Regions from separate parts of the Homo sapiens genome. Here region 1 is linked to region 2. The links come from fine-mapping of genetic effects on gene expression. Tissue or cell type: whole blood. Region 2 holds a variant in brackets; the other region holds the start of a gene. All regions are shown on one strand. Distances are between the middles of the regions.

What was found. PIP is the estimated chance that this variant, and not a neighbour inherited with it, causes the effect.
Region 1: DAPK2 starts here. The variant in region 2 is fine-mapped to the expression of DAPK2 in whole blood (TOPMed, PIP 0.96).

What each region holds. Positions count from the first base shown.
Region 1 is chr15:64,042,791-64,050,790 of GRCh38, forward strand. It overlaps DAPK2 (death associated protein kinase 2), which reads right to left and starts at 3,695. Exons shown (of 12, transcript NM_014326.5): 1 at 3,508-3,695. RefSeq lists enhancers at 1,979-2,028, 2,079-2,128, 7,669-8,000 and silencers at 3,329-3,548, 3,579-3,638, 3,659-3,868.
Region 2 is chr15:63,917,358-63,925,616 of GRCh38, forward strand. It overlaps DAPK2 (death associated protein kinase 2), which reads right to left. Exons shown (of 12, transcript NM_014326.5): 9 at 7,459-7,504. Among named protein-coding and RNA genes, the nearest start is that of MIR422A, 50 kb to the left of the region's middle. The variant C/T (reference allele first, on the strand shown) is at 4,311.

The DNA.
Region 1 (8,000 bases), 130 kb after region 2:
GGGGAGGCCCAGCTGGAAAGCCCTGGAGAGTGGGCATAACTACCCACTTCCCACAAGACCCAGCCAAATGCTACCGTCTCTGTGCGGCTCCATGATCCTTGCCCTCCCAAAAACAGATGACAATTCTCCACCTCTTCAAGTTCTCCCAGAGTGCTCTTCATACCTTTTTAGGGTTCGAGTTGATCATATTCTGGCTTATGTTTATGTCTAACCCAGAGGGAGAGAATAGATTCCATAGTCATCACACAGACCTGGGTTTAAATCCCAGCTCTGTCACTTACTGGCACATTGTCTTAGCTGAGCACAGGATAACTTTTGAGTTTCACATTCCTTCCATGGAAAATGAACGTAAGACAATGTCTAGTGTTGGTGAGTATGTGCGGCAACTAGAGCTCTCAAACACTGCTGGGAGGGGTATACACTGGGACCACCACTTTGGAAAACTGTTCAGCAATTTCTTTGGACATATCTAAGAGAAATGCATGCAGATGTTTTCCCAAATGATCCACGTTAGAATGGTCACTGCAATACTATTAGTAATAACTAAAAATTGGAAACAACCAAATGGTTATCAATAGAAGACTGGATAAACAAATTGAGGTACTATATACCCATACAATGGAATCATTATACAGCAATAAGAATTAACAAACTACTGCTACCTGCAACAACATGGATGAATCTCAGAAACATAATGTTGAATGAAAGTAGACAGACACAAAAGACTGCATACTGTGTGATCCCATTTAGGTAAAATTAATGCATGGTGCTAGATGTCAGCAGAGTGGCTATCCCCTCACTCAGGGGAGAGTTGGAAGGGGAGCTTCGGAGGCTTCAGAGTGCCAGCAATGTTGTTTCCTGATCTGGGTGGTAGTTAGATGGATATATGGGATGATTTTGTATGTGATCAAAATTTTACATAATTTTTTAAAATGAGACTAATGTGAGACAAATGAGATAACCCATGTGTAATGTTTTAAACGGTCCATGGATAACGTGAATTCCTTCCCTCCTCTTTGTGACTTGGAGCCCCATAAGGGCAAGAATTGTGACATTCCTACCTCTGTCCCCTTGTCGTAGGCTAGTACACAGTAGGCACTATATAAGTGTTGGCTGATTTTAACTTAGTTCCCCAGCCTCCTTTCTCAAGGCCGCTACTCAGATGCTCATCAGGTAAAACAACTGATAGCCACTTCAAGCACTTTCCTAACACCTCTCCTAAGGCGAATTTGCATTTTACCAGTTTAGAAACAAACTAAAGGGGTGAAACTGAAGTGGAATTATAGTCACCAGCTAGGACCCAGATAAGGAGCCAGAGGCACAAGGACCTTTCCAGCCTCGAAAAGCTGAAATCACATGGCAGAGGGAAGGGACACAGTTACAACTTTTGGCCAGAAGCACAGGCCATCAGCTCCAGATGCTCCCAGGATGATACCCACCTTAATGCCCATGTTTCTCCTGATGGAGTCCTTGGAATTCAAATTCCTGCCTACAACTCTAATACCAGGCAACACTTCAGGGGGCTACCACAGATTTCCTAGAACCCCATAGATCATCTATTTAGGGATTTTTAGAACTGCTTCAGGATCACCAGGGTGAGAAGGGGAAGCCAGAGCAGTTCCACGTTATCCATACTATATGTTGGCGTTCTGGGTAAGAATTCACTGTGAAACAGAAGTTTGAAAACCACTGCTGTCTGGTCTAACCCACTTGTTTTTACAAGAGGAAGCTGAGATCCAGAAAGGGGAAGGGACTCACTGAGCATCATACAGGTGACCCATCCCGCTCCTCTTCCCAGGGCTTCTTCTGTTGATAGCCACCCCAACTCCTCCAAGATGTCACCAGGGTTGGCAAAGTCAGTGGCCTCCTGAGGGACAAGCTAGGAGGAGGTGTCTAGGGCTGGAAGATCACCTCATAGGAAACTCTCAACACTCAAGAAGCCCTCTCCACCACTGGCCCAGCTCACTCTGCAAAGTGAACTCTCTCAGTTCCTCATCCCACCTCACCAAGTGCAAGTGAGTGAAACGGGACCACAGCAAGAGGGCAGGCAATGGTTGGGCAAAACACACACGACCGTCTCATTACACACACCCCCATTAGGAATCATCACACTCAGGCTCTGGAGAGGCTGCCAACAGAAGGGATGGGGCTCCGGCATTACAGAGCTCCTCTCTACATTCCAGGCTTTGACCCATCACAGTCTCCAATGAGGAAGCTGGGGCCCACAGAAGGTCAGCCACCTGCCTGAGTTGACACAAGAAAAACTTGGTCTCTCTGGCAAAGATCCAGCTCCCTTGGGAAGCCTGCTTGTTCACCCCACAGCTAACAAATCGGGAGGCCTCAAGGAGGTGGGCAGGGTCAGTGCGGGTCTCATTCCTGCCAGCCAGGAACTTACCCCAGAGGAGCAGACCTCCAGCCACATCCACACACCCCTGACCCCTCTGCCCAAGTCTCCTCTGAAGGTGCTGAATCATCAGTGGTGCCACTTGAGGGTGCTCAAAAAACATCTTGGGAGATGAGCGGTTTGGGGAAGGACAGGGCTGTGAAGTTAGCTGTGAAGAGGCCAAGGCACCACGGCCTCTTAGGTCAACAGGACTCTCCCAGGAATATCTTCCACAGAGGCAGTTGGGAGTCGCAGTGTCAGAAACCAGAGTGGCTGCCCTCCACAGGATTCCAGGATACAAGATGTCAGGCGCTGTCCCTGCACCTGCCCGCTTGCCCCCGAGGCAGCCAGCTATGGTGCCCTCTCCTCCAGTGTGCACCACTGCCTTACCATTACCTGCACGGCCTCAACGAGGCTCACCTCTCTGGACCTTGTTTTCTCTTTTGTAAAGTAAGAATACCAATTTCCACCGTGCAGAGTTACGGTGAGGGTTAGCCAGACCTATGCAAGCCTTGGGACCTCCAAAATGCCTAGCCCAGAGTCCTAGTCAACTGTTGGCAACGCCCTTCCAAGCCGTTCCACCCCAACCTGCAGCACACCTGCTGGCCGCCCCCACGCCCATCCTAGCTCTACCCCAGGCCGGGGCGCCTGACGGCGGGGACCCCAGCTTCATTCAGCCCCAGAGGAAGCTCAGACATCTGAGCACCCTCCTCGCATCACATCCTTGTGCCAGGCGGGAGCAAGAGGTGAGAGAGTCAGCCCAAGCTGAGAAGACTTGGCCGGGAGCCGGGCGTGCTCTGCCCGTTCCAGGGGGCCTAACTCGATGGACGTCTGTCTCCCATCTCCCTGCTGGGTGCTTGGCTCTGCCCGCCGCCTCTACCCTGTCTCCCAGGTCAAAGTGCCAGGCTCCGGAGGGCGCCCCAGGGCAGCGGCGGGCAGCTCCCGCGCTCGGGTGCCGGCCACAATGCCCCGGGCCACGGCGTCAGGCATTGGGGCGGCGGGCCCGGGATCTGCGAGCGAGTGCCCCGGATCTCTTCGCCCCGCCAGCCCCAGACCCGGGCGCTGCTGCCGTCAGGCCGCGCGCCCCGTCCCGCCCATCGAGCCCGCAGACGGGTGCTACTCACGGCGGGAGGCTGAGCTGCCGCGGTCGCGGCCGCGGCAGGCGCGGCGGGAGCGGCGGGCGCGGCGGGCGCGGCGGGCGCGGCGGGCGCGGCGGGAACGGGGGACGCGGCGGGGTGCGCTGGGCTCGGCCCTGCAGTCCTCTCCTCCCAGAGCGCCCGGCACCCGCCCGCCGAGCAGCCTAGGAGCCGAGGGGGCGGAGCGGCCAGCCCCGTCCCAGGCGCCGGCTGGAGGCGCGCCCGGCTGCCCGGGACGGGGCTCGGGGCGCCCCCTGCTGGAGCCCCCTCCGGACAGTCCCGGGGCGAGAGCCCAGCTTCCCGGCCGGGTAGGGGACACCTCAGGGCTCCCAGACTCCCGGGAGAGCGGGGAGAGTCGGTAGCAAGACCCTCTGCGCGTCCCTACCGGCTCTACCGCGCACATGCTGCGTGGCCTTGGGCAAGTCGGCTACCCTCCCCCGGCCTTATCTGGAAATCGATTTGAATGAGCTTATACGTATGACATGGTCTGGCACAATCCTCAGAAAATGGTACTTGTGTGCTCCTCTCCCCACCATACACACCGTGAGCGAGGAAGCCCCACTGAGGAATAGGCCGTCTCCTCCCTCCCAGCCAGAGCGCTCCCTACACCGCAGACTCTCCTGGAAACCTCAAGCCCACAGCGTACAGCAAGGTGGGGGCTGCGATGAGAAGGGCCGCTCTGCTCCTCACTGCCCCCGACCCAGCCTGAGAGCGGCCTGCCCTCGTTTGCCCTTTGTCCTGGCACGGTTGCTGAGTGAAGCCCCCCTCTCACCATCACGCCTTCTCTAATAGAGGACTTGGGAATGGGTTCCTCTCTCTGCCCTCTGCCAAAAAATCCCTGAGGAAAAAAGGAATGAGAGTGAGGGGGTGAAGGGAGGAAGGAAGGGAAAACAGAACTTAAGCCAAGTTCATTTGTCTTATTTCAAAACAAGAGGCTGTTTAGAGGAAGCAAATGAGGACCCCTCCAACCCCTGGAATTTCCATCCCTAAGTCACCCATGGGGCTCCTCAAAAGGGCCTTAGATTCAGAGTCCTACCACCAGGTTCAAAGCCCTGCCCTGCCACTCCGCATGTGTGTTCTTGGGCATGGCTCTTTCTTCATCAGTAAAGTGGGAGAAACGCACCTTCCGGTAGCTCCTAATGAAGCTATGGTGGGGCTGAGATGAGATGGAGTGTGTAAGATGCACCTAGAGGACCTCTACCAGTGTGAGCACACACACACCCTTCAGCCTTTTGGACATTGGGACAAATACAGATGGACCCCACCCCCCAGCTGAGCAGTGCCTCCGGGTCCAGGACATCCTCGGCAAAGAGTTCCTTGTTTATAAACTTCACAATAATTCAGAACAGTGCAGCCAGCGAGCCTCCTCTCCTAAGAGCAGCATGATATATAGAGTAATATCCAAGACTAGAGGTGGTTTCTGATGTCAACGGACCTAAGGGAATGACACCCACTGGTGAAGTTTCACCAACATGAGAAGTCCCCCACCAAACTATCCCTAAACACCTCTTCCTCCATTTCCATTTACCTATCACTGGTGACAAACCATTACCAGCCTTGGTGGCACAGGACAACAGTTTCACTATGTTCATGCATTCTGAGGGACAGAAGTTCAGACAGCACAGTGTGTATGGCTTATTTCTGCTCTGCAGTGTCTGGGATTTCAACTGGGAACACCTGAATAGCTGGGGGCTGAAATCATCTGGAGATTTCTCCATTCTCATACCCAGTACCTGGGCTGTGATGAATCCAAGGCTGGGCTCAGCTGACCCTGCTGATCACCTACATGTGGCCTCTCCATCTCTTTCCCTTGAGCCTCATGCTTAATACCTCATTGTCAGCAGCAGCAGCCCCTTACATGAGTCAAAAGAGACATTCTTGGGTTTAGCAATTGACAAGTTAGTCAGAGTCCATTGCAGCTGGAAGGGTCATTGTCAATTGACCCTGGCCACTTTTCAGATGAGGAAACTGAGGCTCGGAGAAGGGAGGTGACTTGCCCAACATCACATAGCTGGTGAGAGACAGAGCTAGGATTAGAACCAGGCCTCCTCCAGATTCAGTCTGGTGCCCCTTCCACTGTACCTGCCAGAATGCAACTATCTAGGAAGCTACCATCTGGAGATGCATCTTATGCTTAAGGTTGGGTGAGTTCATCAGACCCTCACCTGAGGGCAGCGACAGGGCACTGAACACAGGACCAAGGTGGCCATCAGCAGAAAAGGGGAGGCCCCGAGGACAGTGGCAATGAAGACACAAATTCCAGAATGAAGCCAGAGGCAGTCCAGGTATTAAGAGCTAAGAATTATCCAACTCAGTTCCAGTCCCTGCATGGTTCCCATGGCTGACCAAATCGAGTGTTAATGCCTCACCCTAGCATTTAAGGCCCCAACCCTTATTTTCCTGCTGTGTATGCACATTCCCTTCCCTCCTCTGCATGCACATCCAGCTCTTTTGCCAGGTTGGATTATTGGCTGTTCCTGCCTCCATGCTTTTGTTCGTTTCCACTACCCTTCATCCCATTCTACAAAATCTTATCTATCCTCTAAGAGCCTTCTAAAGTATCATGTCTTCCACAGAAACTTCCCTGGTCTGCCCTCTAAATACCTCTCTCCTTTGAACCTCACCACTCTTGGTTGGTACATCTCTTGTCATCTTCCTTCCTCTATTTTAATTAGTGTCTACTTCTCCTTTTCTCAAGGGCAAGTACAATTTCTTGTCCATCTTTGAACCCATACAGTGCTTGATATCCCAAACCCAGTAAAGGTTTCTTAAACTGAATTAAGGAAGGTAAATATCACAAGGGGCCATAGCTGTCTTGTTTTCTATTGTCCCCTAAGAGCACCCAAGCACCTGGCACTTAGTAGATGCTCAATAATCTTACTTCAAGTGCTTCACTTCTAGGGGGATGTCATTATCCTCTTTTACAGATGATGTAACTGAGGCTTGAGAAATTTGATTTGCTCAAACTCATCCAATTTGTAAGTGGCTGAGCTGTGACATGAATCTTGCCTACTGGTCTCTGAAGCTATTCCCTCTGCTGCCTTCCCTCAACTGAAACTTCCAAGATTTCTAAAACAGTGTTAATCTGGAACTTTTCAGTCCAGGCAGTACATCAGAATAACTGAGAATAACATGGGGTGCTTAAAATCCCCCATGCTTAGACTGCACCCTACATCAATTACATCAGAACCTCTGAGGATGAGTTCTGGGTATCAGTTTTTGTTAAACTCCCCAGGTGATTCCCAGTGCACAGGTTGAGACCCAGTCTGTTCATGTCACAGAGACCTAGGGAAATTCTCAACCCCCTCAATGACAAACACATCTGAGTACCTGCTTTGTAAAAGACATTCCAAGGGACTGTGAGATGGTAGAGTCACAGGACCTGTGCTTCCCAGGGATGAGAATACAAGCCCATAGATAAAGATGTAACCATGGCAGGCAGCAAAGGGCACTAGTCATGGTGATATCCTAAAGCATACTTTGGTGCCTGGCAAGTTTACAGAGCCTAAAAACCTCCTGACAAGGGGGCAAGGTGGGGATTAAGATGCTGCATGTTGGCCATGGCAGATGGCACCTGGGTTGGCTTACAGCATGTGTAGTGTGACGGCTAAATGCAGAGACTCTGATGCCAGACTGCCTGGGCCCACACTCAGGCATCCCAGCATGCAACTTACGTGCCATGTGGTCTGGGGCAGGCTATTTGATCTCTCTGTGCCTCATTATCCCCATAGGTCAAATGGAGCTTATAGTAGCATTTATCTCTTGGGTTGTTGTGAGCATGCAGTTACTTTTCAATTCGATCAGTGTCTGGCACTTGGTAAAGTCCGCAATGATTATTAACTGTTATTATTATTCCCTAAATGTCTGGCAATAAGCTCCCCTGGGGAGGAAATGGATCTTATTCATCTCTGCGCCCCATCCCACCCCTAGCCTGGCCCAGAGAATTGCCAAATGCAGTCTGAAATGCAGTCTTCTTGACAACGGGTCAAGTCCTGACTCTCAGGCTCTCGGCCAAGGGAGTGCACAGGTGATTCCTCCCCAGAGGGCTTGCCTACTGGATGGAAGGCCGGCAGGAAGCTGCTTCTTCCCAAACTGACCTGGTGGCCTGGCTTCTCAGCCCTTCCCAGCCATGCCCACTCTGCCCTGTGCCATCTGCCCTCCTAGATGGGAGGTGTGGAGCAGGCTTGGTTTGGCAACCTTTCCTGCTACCCCCCCCACCCCCGGGGGCACTGGTTCTTGCAGCCAGAGGCAGCTGCTTCAGCCTCTAGCCTTGCTGGACTCAGCACCACAGGGATGGGGCAGGGAAGGGGAGGAGAGAAGGGAGGAAGGAGCTGGGGGATGGGAGGCCTTGCCTCTCTCTAGAGAACCTGGGGGATGGGGATTTCCTGGACATGTGTACACACTCTTTTACTCCGCAAACATTCAATAGTACCTCCTGGGGTTATGTGCTGGAGTAGGGGCAAATAAAGACCCAATGCCAT
Region 2 (8,259 bases):
TGTCTCAAAAAAAAAAAAAGAAAAAAAGAAGAAGAAAATCCTTAGCAGAGATTTATGCTGGAGAACTTATGAGTTAAATAAGTCTGAAATTTGCTTTAAAATACCCCAGAAGAAAAGTAATGGGAGAGATGAATGAAAGAGGACCCGCATGACTTGATTCCTGCTGGAGCGGGGTCATAGGTCCTGGAATCCACTATCCCATTCCTTATACTTCTGTGCAAGTTTTGGCAATTTTCCTGCTGAGGGGACCATAACAAAAAGTTTAAAACACTCTTTTAAATCTGTGTAATCTCCCTCTCTTTAATCTCCATTCAACTGTTCCAAGTTCCTAACCCCAATCTTGGCTCAGCCCCACCCCCCTTCCAGATTTTACTCATGCCTTCCTCAAGGGACACAGCTTGGGAGTGGAGGAGGGCGGTCACTGGTGGGGACGGCGTCCCTGGGAAGGCCTCTCTTCTCTGCAACCCTCTTACCCTTTCTCAATCAGAATTCCTCTCTCCTTTGATTTCTAGGAGATGAGGAAGCTCTATTTTATCACTCACCATAGCTTTTCCAATCTAGTTGGCTGGGTCCCCATCTGCCCCAGACACTGAATCTTTTATTTGAGGTTATCTTGTCCTTGTCTGTCACCTCCCCCTGAGCCAGAGCACAATCAGTGTTTGTTCAACGGGACTGGACCCTTTTGCAACGTGAACATGCCCACTGCTGGGTCAGGAATTTCACGGACCAAGGAAAAAAGGCATCCAGTCCCACAGACATTTACAGAAGATTGACAGTAGGGGTGACAGCTGGGCACACAGCCACCTCCAGCAAGGGCCGGGCCACCTGTGCTGCGTGATGGAGTGAGGTAGGAAGCCACCATCTTCATGATCACCTGTAAGGGAGGGGAGGGGGCCCATGGGGGAGACTCCAGCTCTTTCTGCCATTATTCCTCTGCTCCATCCCTTCACTGCCAGGCTCCCACAGCTGCAGAATCATCGATTACCAAACCATCACCCCACCTTCTGACACACAGTCAGGCAATGCTAGGCTGTGAGCACCTGCCTCACAGCAGGGACAGGCAGCTGCCTTCCCCAAGGGCCAGCTTGCCAGCTTCCTTGAGAATTGTTATTCAGGGCGATGTCATACACTCACTTTCCCCTCCCAAACAGCCCAGGATGGTGTTTGAACAGAGCACAGAAGCCGACCTTTTATTTGCAGTCTGGGCTGGGTGCAGTGGCTCACGCCTGTAATTCCAGCACTTTGGAAGGCCGAGGTGGGTGGATCACCTGAGGTCAGGAGTTCGAGACCAGCCTGACCAATGTGGTGAAACCCCCATCTCTACTAAAAATACAAAAATTAGCCGGGCATGGTGCTGCGCACCTATAGTCCCAGCTACTCAGGAGACTGAGGCAGGAGAATTGCTTGAACCTGGGAGGCAGAGGTTGGAGTGAGCCGAGATCATGCCACTGCACTCCAGCCTGGGCGGCAGAGTGAGACTCTGTGCGGCTCCCCCACCAAAAAAATTGCAATTTGGTGAATTAAAAATCCTCAATGGCAGAGGGGCCTGCCCACAGAGCAGCACCCACAAGCCTTCCTTCCTCTAGGCACCAGCGAAACAGTCCATTCTCACAGCCCTTCCCGCCATTGTTAGCCCTCCACACTGTTGTAAAAAGTCAGCTGAGGGCGTGTGGGGAGCAGAGATAAGCAGGTCCTGTGGCTGCATCCCACAGGCCCCCGGGCTCCCCCAGCATCAGGTTCCAATGCCATGGAAGGACGGGACTTCAGCTGGCCAGGACACAGAGGAAGGTCATGGTCTCCTCTGCTTTCCCCAAAAGACTTGGGGGCATTTCTCAACTCTCTTTCATTTGTCTTTAGAAGCTCTTTGTACAGAAAAAGGTCTGTTTACGACACGTCTAAGTGAGAAACAGTTACAGTGACTGGACATGAGCATAGAGAGGACGATGTCACTGCTATAAGGAAAACCACTTAGAGTTCGGAGTCCAGCTCACGGCCAACTAAATGGGTGACTCTCAGCACTGTGTATAGCTGATCATGATTCTAAAACAACCACTTCTCCCTCCCTTTTCCCAATTTTCCCCATTCAAATCATTGCCAACATTTTACTCTTTTACTGTATTCTATTTTTTATTTTTTTGAGACAGAGTCTCACTCTGTCACCCAGGCTGGAGTGCAATGGCGTGATCTTGGCTCACTGCAACCTCCGCCTTCCAGGTTCAAGCGATTCTCCTGCCTCAGCCTCCCGAGTGTCCTGAGTAGCTGGGACTACAGGCACCCACCACCATGCCCAGCTAATTTTTATATCTTTAGTAGAGACAGGATTTCTCCATGTTGGCCAGGCTGGTCTCACACTCCTGACCTCAAGTGATCCACCCACCTCAGCCTCCCAAAGTGCTGGGATTACAGGCATGAGCCACCACACTGGGCCTGCATTCTATTTTGACCTTCACTAAAAAGCTTGCCCTGTGTTGCCCCATCAGTGGCTTCCTCTCCTTAGAAACCTGGCTGTGTGAAGGTCAAGGTCTGTTAACACGGCCAAAGGGACATTTAATATTTGCAGTGTCTCAGCACCAAACAAGTATACAACTTCCCGTGACAGGGCAGGTAAGACCTTGGAGAGACTGTAGACAGGTCATTTGAACCAATTCTCTGGGGTAAGATGTAGGAAATGGAGCTTTTGCCATCTTTCATTGGTTCCAAGATATACATTTTTGGATCTCTGAAGTCAGGAGGCATCTCCCAGATGATGGTATCATATTCTTACTGTTGGCCCGGACAGAAGGCAGGTGCTCCGGGAGAGGATAGTACTGTTTTTGCCAGCCATCCAGGGCCACCCAGCCTCAGACTGTTGGACATTACACTCTCTGCTTGATGTTCTTTTGGATCACACTGATAGTGCAAATTCAGAAAGCAAACCTGCATGAGTACCACCGGCTTGGGACTCCTGTTCTCAGGGAAGGATTTTTCACCCCCATTTAGTGTCAAGGTTGAGATGCATGGGTTTCCTTGCTCCCCCTTTCTGCATGGTGGCTCTATTTCTCATTTACCCTCTCATTGAGGGCATCACAGCTTTATGTGGTGGGGGTAGAGAGAGTTTCCTATTAGACGCCCCATCTTGGGCCTTTTTTCTTAGTGGTCCATAAAATGATGATGCATCTTATCACCACGGTTTCTCATAGCTGATGAAGTAAGTTTCTGTTACAAATATTGTATATGATATTTGAAATGATCCTTCATGCATATAGAAAAGGAGACAGGATTCTGAAGAAATGGTTTCATGAGATGAAGCTTTCCTGTCTTGTCCTAAACCACTTCCTGTCTGAGCTGTTCACGGGGCATTCCCTCCCCAGCACCTGGAACCCGCTGGCTTCTCATGACTTTCGGGATAAGGGCAGAGCTCTTCCACATGGCCAAAGCCCTGCTGCTCCTGCTTGTTCTCCGGTCATTTCCGCACTGTATTCCTATTCTCTCCCCTCCAGCTTTCAGTCCTCACATTCTCAACCTTCCACACCGCCTCTCATCACAGAGCTCTGGTATGATGGCTCTGTTGGGAAACTTCTCTCTCCCTGGTTGGCTTAGCTGACCTCCGTTCCAGTGTCACTGCTTCAGGACGCTTCCCCCGATGCTGTCAGACCCTGACGGCAGGCCCCTGCAGTGCTATGTGCTTCTCTCCCAGCATGAACACAAGCTGCAGCTCTATCTCTCTGTGATTCTTGGTCAATGTTCAAATCCTTCGCTGGACTGAGCACTCCGTGAGACAGGAATCAGGCCTATTTTTACTAAACATTGTATCCCCAGAGTCAAGCCGGGCATCTGGAAGTTGGTTGGTGCCTAAGTATAATTTATAAATGGATGGATGAATCCAGGTGTGAGCTGCCCCCACAAGCAGGGAGTAAACTTCTGGAGCCTGGCGCAGCCAGGGGAAGCAGAAAGAGCAACAGACTTGTCATTAGAAGGTCTCTACTTTTGCCATAATGATGTGACCTTGGGAAAATCCCATCCTCTCCCTGTTTCCTCAGCTCTAAATTGGGAATATCGTTTAGTCTGCCTCTAAGATAGGGATGTTTTGTGAGGCCATGAAGACACTTTGAACTATACAAGTTATGCCCCTACCCACAAGCTTCTAGCTCAGCACTAGGCTCATATGCCATGCTCTGTTGACATGAGTTGGTTGACTGTCCCCTCCCCCAGAGAAAGGGAGATGAGATCTTATAATCCTTGGGGAGGGGTGCTCAAAGCTTTGGGTCATGAAACGACCATGTGGCCTTGCGCTTCCCCATCTTTATGTTTGCCCTTTTCAAAAACCCTCA[C/T]GGAACTTCTTAGGCCTTCAAGGCCCAATGGCCTAGGTACATAAGAAAAGGAACCTCCTGTTGAGGACCTTCTGGCCTTTATTCTCGACACAGAGTTGGGGCCGTTAGCCAGAAGAGGAGAAAGGGTGGAGAATGGGAAGACTCCTTCCTTCCTTCTCTCCTGCTTGCAGGCTGGTCTTCAGACAGAGACAGGGATGGGTAGGGACAATGACTTTGCCTTCTGGGACAGAGCTCCTGGGACAATCATCTGCAGGTGTATGCATTCCACCTACACCTGGCAGAATACATGAAGTTGCTTACTTTACCTCTGGGACCTGGACTTTAATATTAAGGTAGATATTTACAGCAAAGCCTTACTACTTTCTCCCATATACCTCATCTTAGAGATGGGCATCCTGGGTTTCTGTTTCATCTGTACTGATTGACTATATCATTTTCCCTCTCTGAGTCAATTTTCTCATCAGTTACATGTAAATAATAATAATAATAATGCCACCCACCTTCCTATCTCACTGAGTTCTTTTAAGGACCAAGTGAGGTCATTTGTCAGACATGAGTGCTTGGTAAGTGAAAAATCAATGCAAACGAAAGGCAATATTATTTTCTCTATGCATTGTAAATCCCTGCTTCTGTAGCAGGAAAGCACCATGCTGACTTAGTTATTCCTAATTAACTCAAATATTACCCAAGATCTACAGTCCATAAGGTATGTAGGCAGAAAGTGAGATATGAACAAATCCTTCATCACAAATCAATTCTCAAGCATTTCCCCAGGGCCAGCCATCCTCCCTCTGCAGAAGGGGACCCTGAGGGGTACTCACTCTCTAATTGTTTTAACAGCTTGGCTGCCCTGCCAGAGCCCTCCCAGAAAACCAGATTGGTGAGGGGAGGTGCAGAATGAAGAATTAACTGGCACCTCAGCAATTCTGGATTCTGTGGAGGGGCTGGAAGGCTATACTACAGACACACACCCCTGCAGGATAATTCTAGCTGGAGGCCGCAGCAGGGTGGATGAGAACATGCTTCTGCAAACCTCTTGGGATGCATCACTGACTGGATTCTGGCGATTAGAGCTTCCAGCCTGCCAGAAATTCCTCAGTGCATGATCTGCTGAGCAGCTCTGACAGGGATTCACTGGTGTCCTGGTAGAATGTGGAGCCCAGGCCCTCAGAGCTCCCACTCTCCAGCTGGAAGCTGCCCACCAGCTCCTGAATCCACTGCAGGTCTGCGGAGAGCTCCTGCCTCAGAATCTCAAACTGGGCTTGCAGATGGTCCAGTTTCCTGGCCATGCTTCCGAGGCTACATCCCGTGGCCTGGATGTCTTCTCGCAGCAGCTTCTTCAATGACTCCACCTTGCGGAACTCATACCTGAGCTGGGACAGGTCATGCCGGGCGCTCTCATTCTCCTCTCGGTACCAAGCTTCCTTCTCATTGAAGATGGAGACCAGGGCCTCCACATCGTCCTGGATGGTATCGTGGGCCTCCACCAGGGCACGGCATCCCAGGTCGACCCGAGCCACGTCTTCCACCACACAGGCAAAACGCTCGAAGTTGACATAGGAGTTGTTGGGAGGCATGCTTGAGTGGCATTTGAGAGTGTACTCTCTCAGGTGCTTGGTCTTCAGCTGGGTGGGCTCTGTCTTCCGCTGTTCAGGGGCTCTGCCTTCTCCTTTTGACTGGTGGGTGTTCAGACAGAAGAATCAGAGTGTTAATTTGCCGCCCACCCCAGAGGGCAGTCCAAAGGGTAGGCAGAAGGCACACAAGCGGCCTCTGGCATTCACTGCATGCGTCAGGCCATGGGGAGAACCAGGGTGGGATGAGCACCTCCTTAGGCCATAAGTGAGGTCAAGGAGTGTGGGGGTGCTGTCTGCATGCTCATTCAGGGCAGAAGGGTCCACAGCCATTAGAGAGAGCTCCACACACATAGCATTTAAGGGGTGCTCACGCAGACAAGCAGGCTGCAGCCAGGACTCCGCAGGCATCTGCGCAGGGCTGGAGCACGCAAGGCCAGGGCTCACGCAGCAGGGCTGAGGAGCATCTCTCCTTCAGGGCTCCTTGGGCCTTCCCCATCCTTCAATGAGCTGATGAAGCTGAGCAGATAAAGCTGACCTCTTCCCAGACGACTCCAGCCCTCCCTGTTCTGTCTTCCACAGGCCTCACCTTCTCTTTGTATTGATTGATTGATTATTATTTTTTAGAGAGATGGGGTCTTGGCATGTTGCTCAAGTTGGTCTTGAACTCCTGGGCTCAAGTCATCCTTCTGCTGCCTCGGCCTCCCAAAGTGCTGGGATTACAGGCATGAGCCACTGCACCTGGCCTGCCTCACCTTTTCTTATCTCCACCTTTCTTATGGTCATTTCATCCTTGCTGGCCTTCTCACATAACAGTTAAGGTGAATGGGAAGTCTGGTGACGTCCCTGGGTGTGCATAGCTGGTCAGTCAGCAGAATTAGGGCCTGAATCCTGCTGAGTCTCACCCTCTCAAAGTGCTCTTCACCACACCAGACCACAAGAGCCTCTGGAAAGCCAGCAGCTGACTGGAAAGCCAGCAGGAAGCCCGACTGCAAGGCGAGTTAGGCAGGGATTCATTTTTTTGCCCTGACTCTCCCCAGAGGGAACAGAATTGCCCTAACAGTGGCTGTCTCTCTTCCCCACCAGGCCTCTGTCTCAGGCCCCATTCCTCAGGGCCTGAGGAGGTGGGTGGCTGATTTAAGTGTCATCCTTGACTTAGAGCCCCAAAAATCAGAAGGAAGGAGGCCTGGTCACAAAGTGGGGGTTTTCAATTGTCATCTATCTTTCTACACCTGGGGAGTCCTGATTTCCACTTGGAGAAGTGGCAGTGACATACCCTTCAACAAAGAACACTGTGTAAGTTGGCCCCAAAGAAAAAGGGTTTCAACTGTGGTTTGTGAGGGTTTCATTTCATAAGTTACCTGAATTTGAGACACACAAACTTAAAATAGCAAGCAAATAAACCTATTCGAATAAGCCCAGGCCCTCTGGGGCCCCTGGCTAGCTTTCATCTGTGCCCAGGGTCAGTGTTTAAAGCAAAGGCCTCTCCATGGGCCCTCTGCATCTGGCTGCCCAGGCCAACCCTGGCGACAGAGCAGGGACCCTTTGCCCATTGGAACTCATGGCTGTGCCCTTACCGTGATCCAGGGGTGTCTGAGAGCCTCTTGGATTGTGAGCCGTTTCCTGCAATGAGGATTGGGAAACAGTGATGATCCATGAGGACAGAAGTTGGGAGCAACCATCTCCGTTCTCACTCTTTTTAGACCTATATTTTGGCATTATTTGGCCACTGCCGTCAAACCAGTGGAATGGAGGATGCAGAGATGGATGGGAGCTGGCTGCAAATCCTGCACTCCAGGGGAAGGAAGCAGTCCAGACAGACCCCTCAATAGAGTGGCCTTGTTACCTACACCCATACTATTAGTCCCAAAGCTGAAAGGCCTAAGAAGAGTCATAAATGCTCCAATGAGCTTCCAGAATCTTCCAAAAGCCAACTCTCCATTGCTAAATCCCTGGTCTGTTTTTCTGTTTGCCTCCTGGATCCGTTCTCTGCCTTTCGCTGCTCTGTACCCAGGTAAGCAACTCTCCCTAGCACTGTTCTTAGACAGGAAAATCAGGGCCCTTGCACTCCAGACAACCCCACTCTGGCCCTCTCTGAAGTCTGTGGGATGGAGAGGACATGGTGTTCTAGTCTGTGGACCTTTCTTCCTGCCCCATCCAGAGCATGCTCTGGGTACCCAGCGCCCTGCAATTCCCTGCCTATTTCCTTCTTTGACCCCACAGCCACGGGACTCACCCTGGCCCCTGGAGAAGGGATAGGGTTAGCATGTCTTCCACCATCCCACTGTACTGACCTCTCTGAGCCTACCAGCTCCTACTCCCAACCTGAACTGGCTTGAAAACCCTGCCACTTAAACTTTTCAAATCTGAATTCCAGG